Linked DNA regions of Homo sapiens: region 1 is linked to region 2. A link means that fine-mapping ties the variant in region 2 to the expression of a gene that starts in the linked region. Tissue or cell type: monocytes. Region 2 holds a variant in brackets; the other region holds the start of a gene. All regions are shown on one strand. Distances are from middle to middle.

The links. PIP is the estimated chance that this variant, and not a neighbour inherited with it, causes the effect. A credible set is the group of variants that fine-mapping cannot tell apart.
Region 1: it holds the start of EDC4, and the variant in region 2 is the best candidate, but not a certain one, in a credible set for the expression of EDC4 in monocytes (TOPMed, PIP 0.51).

The regions. Positions count from the first base shown.
Region 1 is chr16:67,872,012-67,874,764 of GRCh38, reverse strand. It overlaps EDC4 (enhancer of mRNA decapping 4), which reads right to left and starts at 1,713. Exons shown (of 29, transcript NM_014329.5): 1 at 1,422-1,713. The coding sequence starts at 1,503. NUTF2 (nuclear transport factor 2) reads right to left here. Exons shown (of 5, transcript NM_005796.3): 5 at 2,198-2,753. RefSeq lists an enhancer at 997-1,497 and a silencer at 1,391-1,600.
Region 2 is chr16:67,675,652-67,678,404 of GRCh38, reverse strand. It overlaps GFOD2 (Gfo/Idh/MocA-like oxidoreductase domain containing 2), which reads left to right. Exons shown (of 3, transcript NM_030819.4): 3 at 2,352-2,753. Among named protein-coding and RNA genes, the nearest start is that of C16orf86, 10 kb to the right of the region's middle. RefSeq lists enhancers at 1-382, 383-1,339. The variant G/A (reference allele first, on the strand shown) is at 1,109.

The sequences.
Region 1 (2,753 bases), 200 kb before region 2:
AGAGGAGACAAGAAAGAGCTGCTTGGCAAACAAGGGAATCAAGTGCCAATCAATAAACAAAGTAGTTATAAGGAAAGCCTCCAGGCCACTTCATTCAGATCAGAGCCACTTTAGCTGCTCAGGGACAAGCTGACAACTCTCCCTTCCATGAAGGGTACCATGAGGACAACCAAAAAGCAGGCTCAGGCTGTACATGGTTGGCCATGCCAGGCTCTACCAAATCTCTGCGGAGTCTAGTCTACAAAGCAGCTGAGCAGCAGGAGAGGTCCACGCCCAACTCATGAGTAAAGAGGGCACACACTCCAGGCCTGGGACAAAGGGCCGAGTGGTCTCAGGCAGCAGATGGATTTTCTGAAAGTAGGGGTTAGTTGAATCCACCCCTAGTGAGCACCAGTGCCTGCTTCCAGAAGCAGCCAGTCTGGGCCTCCCAGCAGGTGTAAGAACAAGATCTGAGGAAACACAATTCTCCACTGTACGCCCACACCATCATCACCGGCCACTTCAGAGATCCCTAAACCTGTCAGTAAACTAGTGCCTGCACACGTGCTATTTCCTCTTCCTAATAGGTGGCTTCTCCATAGGTGCCTTGGGTGCCTTTCCTGACACCCAAGCCCCTGTTCACATTACAAGACCTAGCCCAGTCTCCCCTCTCAGACCTGCACTCTGCACTCACCAGCCTCCACCCTTCCCACGCCCATCACAGTATCGAGACACTCCTTTCTTTCAATGACAACAGTATATTACAACCCTGTTAGCTGTGTCTTGGGGAATCTTTGGGGGCAAGACTAGTTCTGAGGTATCATTAAGAGCCAAAGCGAAATATGAATGAATGGGAACCAATTAGGGCTTGCAGATATTTGTAGCATAATTCAGTCAGGGTGGTGCGGTCTGTGATTTGCCTTCATCCCAGAAAGAACACGGAATTGAGACTGGACACCTTCCTCCTGGAAATCAGTTTCAGAACGGGAGGCCTGGAGTCTTTATTCCAGAGAGAAGGGCAAGTTATGGAGGGGGACCGGCAGCTCTTCAGCATCGCGCTTAAGCCTGGGCCCAGAATTCCATATACGGAGCCCAGACCAGGCCTCTGAACCATGGAGAAAGGGAAGAGGAGCTAGGCCAGTCCCAGGAACACTAGAGACCTCGGGGCCAGGAAACCAGAGGGCCCCAGCGGATTCAGAGAAGGCGCCTCACCTTCAACCGAGACGCTGAAGGACAAGGCAGAACAGCCTGAGGACAAGATAGGGAGGGGTCACACCCAGGGGTCTGCGCCCTTCGAGGGGCACAGTCAATCCCCGTCCACCCTTACCCGCCGGGAGGATCCAGAGCTAGTCCTAAGGGAGCTGTGGGCCCCAATGGCGGTTCAGACGCGCGCCGCCCTTTTGTCAGCTCGCCTGGGGCCCACCCCCGCAACCCCCGCTCACCGCCCGCGGGCCGGTCCAGCTTGAGGATGTCCCGCAGGTGCTGCGTGGCGTCCTCGATGTCGATGCTCGCGCAGGAGGCCATGGGCCCTGCGGCGGGCGCCCCGCCCGCACCGCGTTCGTTCCGCCGCCGCCGCGCACCACGCACCCTCGCTCACCCGCCACGGGGCGAGACAGCGGGACGCCGGTCACTACACAGTCCACCCGCAGTTCGCAAACCGCCACCCGCGCAGCGTCGCTGAGCCCCGCCAACCCCACCAACCGCCTCCACTTCCGGCACCCACGAGCCGAGGCTCCCGGAACCTGCCAGGGCCGGAGAAGAAAGGTTCCGGGCTGGGGGCGGAAGCCTAAACCCCTCCCGCAGCCAGTCCCCCTCGGCGGCCCCGCCCCTGTGTCCGCGAGGTCAGGAAAGTCCCACGGGGCTGAAGTAAGCGTCCACGCACTGGGCCACCTAAAGCCCTACTCGACTCAGAAGGCGCCAGGTCCCTGCCCACTCCCAGAGCATGGACTCCGATGGTCCTGGGACGGGGTCAACTTAGCCGCCCATGCTAAGGTCCCTCAGACCCCCAGAATATGCTGAATTGGCAGGTGCCTCAGGTTCCCTTTGGGAATGGGTCGGAATAACTCAAGGCCTGAGGCTACCCTCGAGGTCATAAAACTCAGGAATTGCAAGAGCAGGGGAGATGATCCCACTACAATGACCAGTCATTGTTCCCTACTGTCCCCCAGCATCCCCTTGTCCCACCTGGCACCCTCAGGTTGGAAGAAAGAAACCACAGTTTACAAATTCTTCTTTATTGCAGACAGTTCAGGCACAGGTACATGGAAGAAGCCGTATTGCAGATTTTACACAAGGTGGTTTGAGGCAGCAGGCACCTACCTCTTCCCCACCCCCACTTCCCCAAATACACATCAGCCTAGAGATCATTCCCACTGAAATCTCCTGAGCATGCTGTCCTCTCAAACAGCACACCATCCAGCCCTGTGCCCAATGTCACCAGGCAATCTGTGGGATCTGAGGAGGTCCTTAGCCTCCACCCGTAGTGGGACAGGGGAAGGGTATCCTTTTACATGTCAGATTTAGCTGTGGTGTCCTTACCAATCCTAAAACCCTTAACAGGGCACTGACCCAAATCTTGGGTTTGGTTCTAGCCTATGGTTGCTACATTGCCACTAGGTTTATACCATCCAGAAGTCTGTGGGACAAGGGGCTAGATTTGTACTGGGCAAGGCCTTTGTCCCCAAAATGGAGAAGCAGAAACTGCCCTAATAGCTAAGACTCCCCGGAATTGGAAGATAGCATGAAGTCTGTATGCTGAGGAAGGAAGTGGAGAG
Region 2 (2,753 bases):
TCCCGGGTTCAAGTGATTTTCCTGCCTCAGCCTCCCGAGTAGCTGGGATTACAGGCATGTGCCACCACGCCCAGCGAATTTTGTATTTTTAGTAGAGACGGGGTTTCTTCCTGCTAGTTAGGCTGGTCTCAAACTCCCAACCTCAGGTGATCCACCCACCTTGGCCTCCCAAAGTGCTGGGATTATAGGCGTGAGCCACCATGCCCAGCCAAGACATTGGCCATCTCTATGAAGTTTTCTTAGTTTTTGTTGCAAGATTTATTGTCTGTAGTTACTATTGTTTCTGCTGTAAGCTGGCCCCTCCTGAGCCTGTGTGAACAGAATCCATCTTGGTCCATCAGGGTAAGCTGCACCCTGCAGTGAGCCATCAGAAATAATCTGTGTCTTAACCATTACCTCATCTGAAAACATTCAGAAAATGTTTGGGGGCCTGAGGGAAGATGAGCACCATGGTTACTGAAGATGCACATACCTGGAGAAGGCACATTCTTGTGACCGGTTGCCCCAGGTCACAGGCATCCAGGCCTAAGGCTGCCCCTCCAACCAGGAAGTACCTGTGGAGTGCCAGAGTGGAGCCTGGATGGCTGTGGAGGAGAAGCCCAGGTGCACACATTGCCCAGATGGGCTTCAACTAGAAGGGTAAGCACATGAATTAGTCCAGCCCAAGACTTGGTATCCAGTTTTCCACATTGCATGTAGGCTCTGTGTAATGCTTTCAGTCTCGTTTCCTAACCCACCCCTGCCTTCTCAGTCCTTCAGCATTTCGTGATCATTGCCTCTCCCCAATCCCCAAGTCCTTCTGCACAGCAGCCCCCATCTCACATTCAGTGGCTAGAGCAGGATGAGCAACCGAGAGACCACAGGAGGCAAAGAGTCAAAAAGATAATTTTGGAGTGGTCAGGCATGGCAGCTCATGCCTTAATCCCAGCACTTTGGGAGGCCAAGGCGGGTGGATCACCTGAGGTCAGGAGTTGGAGACCAGCCTGGCCAACATGGTGAAACCCTGTCTCCACTAAAAATACAAAAGTTAGCCGGGCGTGGTGGTGGGCACCTGTAATCCCAGCTACTCAGGAGGCTGTAGCAGGAGAACCGCTTGAACCCAGGAGGC[G/A]GAAGTTGCAGTGATCCGAGATCATGCGACTGCACTCCAGCCTGGGCAAGAGTGAGACTCTATCTCAATATTTTTTTAAAAAGAAAATTTTGGAGGAGTGCACAGATCATGTATCAAGACCTTATGGGTGGGGCCTTTGTAAGGACTTTGGCTTTTATTCCGAGAAGCTATTGCACATTGGAGAGCTTTTTCGTGGGTTTTTGCCAGGGTGTCTTTACCCTTTCTGGCTTACTATGACTTGTAAACTTCTGTATGTGTCTAGTCCATACTGCTTTTTGGGCTTTCTAAGTTTTCTATTTAAAGTATTAGCACAGGATTTCCTTCGACTTGAACCACACAAAGCTCGCAGGAACACTGCAGGTGTTAGTGTCTCATGGCTGCTCATATCCTCACAAGCTTTCATCTTGAAACATGGAGCAGCATTCATCCCTTCAGTTCCCAGCTGCTTATCCTCTAGCACTCTCCTCAGGGCTTTGTCCAGCTTTGTTTACCTCTGGGTGCGTGTTGGCTGCAGCGTACCCAGAATGGGTGTGAGGGCAAAAAGGGTATTCTCACTTCCTTCCCTTCCTGCCGGAGCCAAACATGTTCTAGCCTTGGGCCACTCTAACTTGTTGGACCAGTGTTTTCAGAGAACAATCTGCAGGGAATCTTAGGGCCCTCTCTGGAGTTATGACTAAGAGTAGAAGTTATGAATAGTCCATCCCCTAGAAAATAGGTTAGATTTCCTTGCCCCAAGCTGATGACCTAATAAATGCATGACAACATAGAGACACGTCCATGAAGTGTGCCCACCTCTCTAGCCCACCTGTGTTATTCAGGGTTCTCCAGAGAAACAGAACCAATAGGGTGTTTAAGACAGAGATTTATTTGAAGAAATTGGGGCCAGGCATGGTGGCTCACACCTGTAATCTCAGCACTTTGGGAGGCCAAGGCAGGAGGATCACTTGGGCCCTGCCTAGGCAACAGAGGAGGACCCCATCTCTACAAAAAAAAAATTTTAAATTAGCCAGGCGTGGTGGTACACACCTGTGGTCCCACTTAGGAGGCCAAGATGGAGGATCGCTTGAGGCCAGGAGATTGAGACTAGCCTGGGCAGCATAGCAAGACCCCACCTCTACAAAAAAGAAAAAAAAATTAGTTCGTGCAGTTGTAAGGCAGAGAAGTCCAAAATCCTCAGGGCAGGCGGACATGCTGGAGATTCCCCCTTGAAACTTTGAGATTTCCTGTTGTGTCCTGTTGTTAGGTATTGGGAAGAATGTGGTTTGCGAGAAGGCAGCAACATCGGTGGATGCCTTCCGGATGGTGACAGCCTCGCGCTACTACCCGCAGCTCATGAGCCTGGTAGGGAACGTGCTGCGCTTCCTGCCTGCCTTCGTGCGCATGAAACAGCTGATTTCGGAACACTATGTGGGAGCGGTGATGATCTGTGATGCCCGCATCTACTCAGGCAGCCTGCTGAGCCCCAGCTATGGCTGGATCTGTGATGAGCTCATGGGCGGCGGGGGCTTGCACACCATGGGGACCTACATTGTGGACCTGCTGACCCACCTGACCGGCCGGAGAGCCGAGAAGGTGCACGGGCTGCTCAAGACATTCGTGAGGCAGAACGCTGCCATCCGTGGCATCCGGCACGTCACTAGCGATG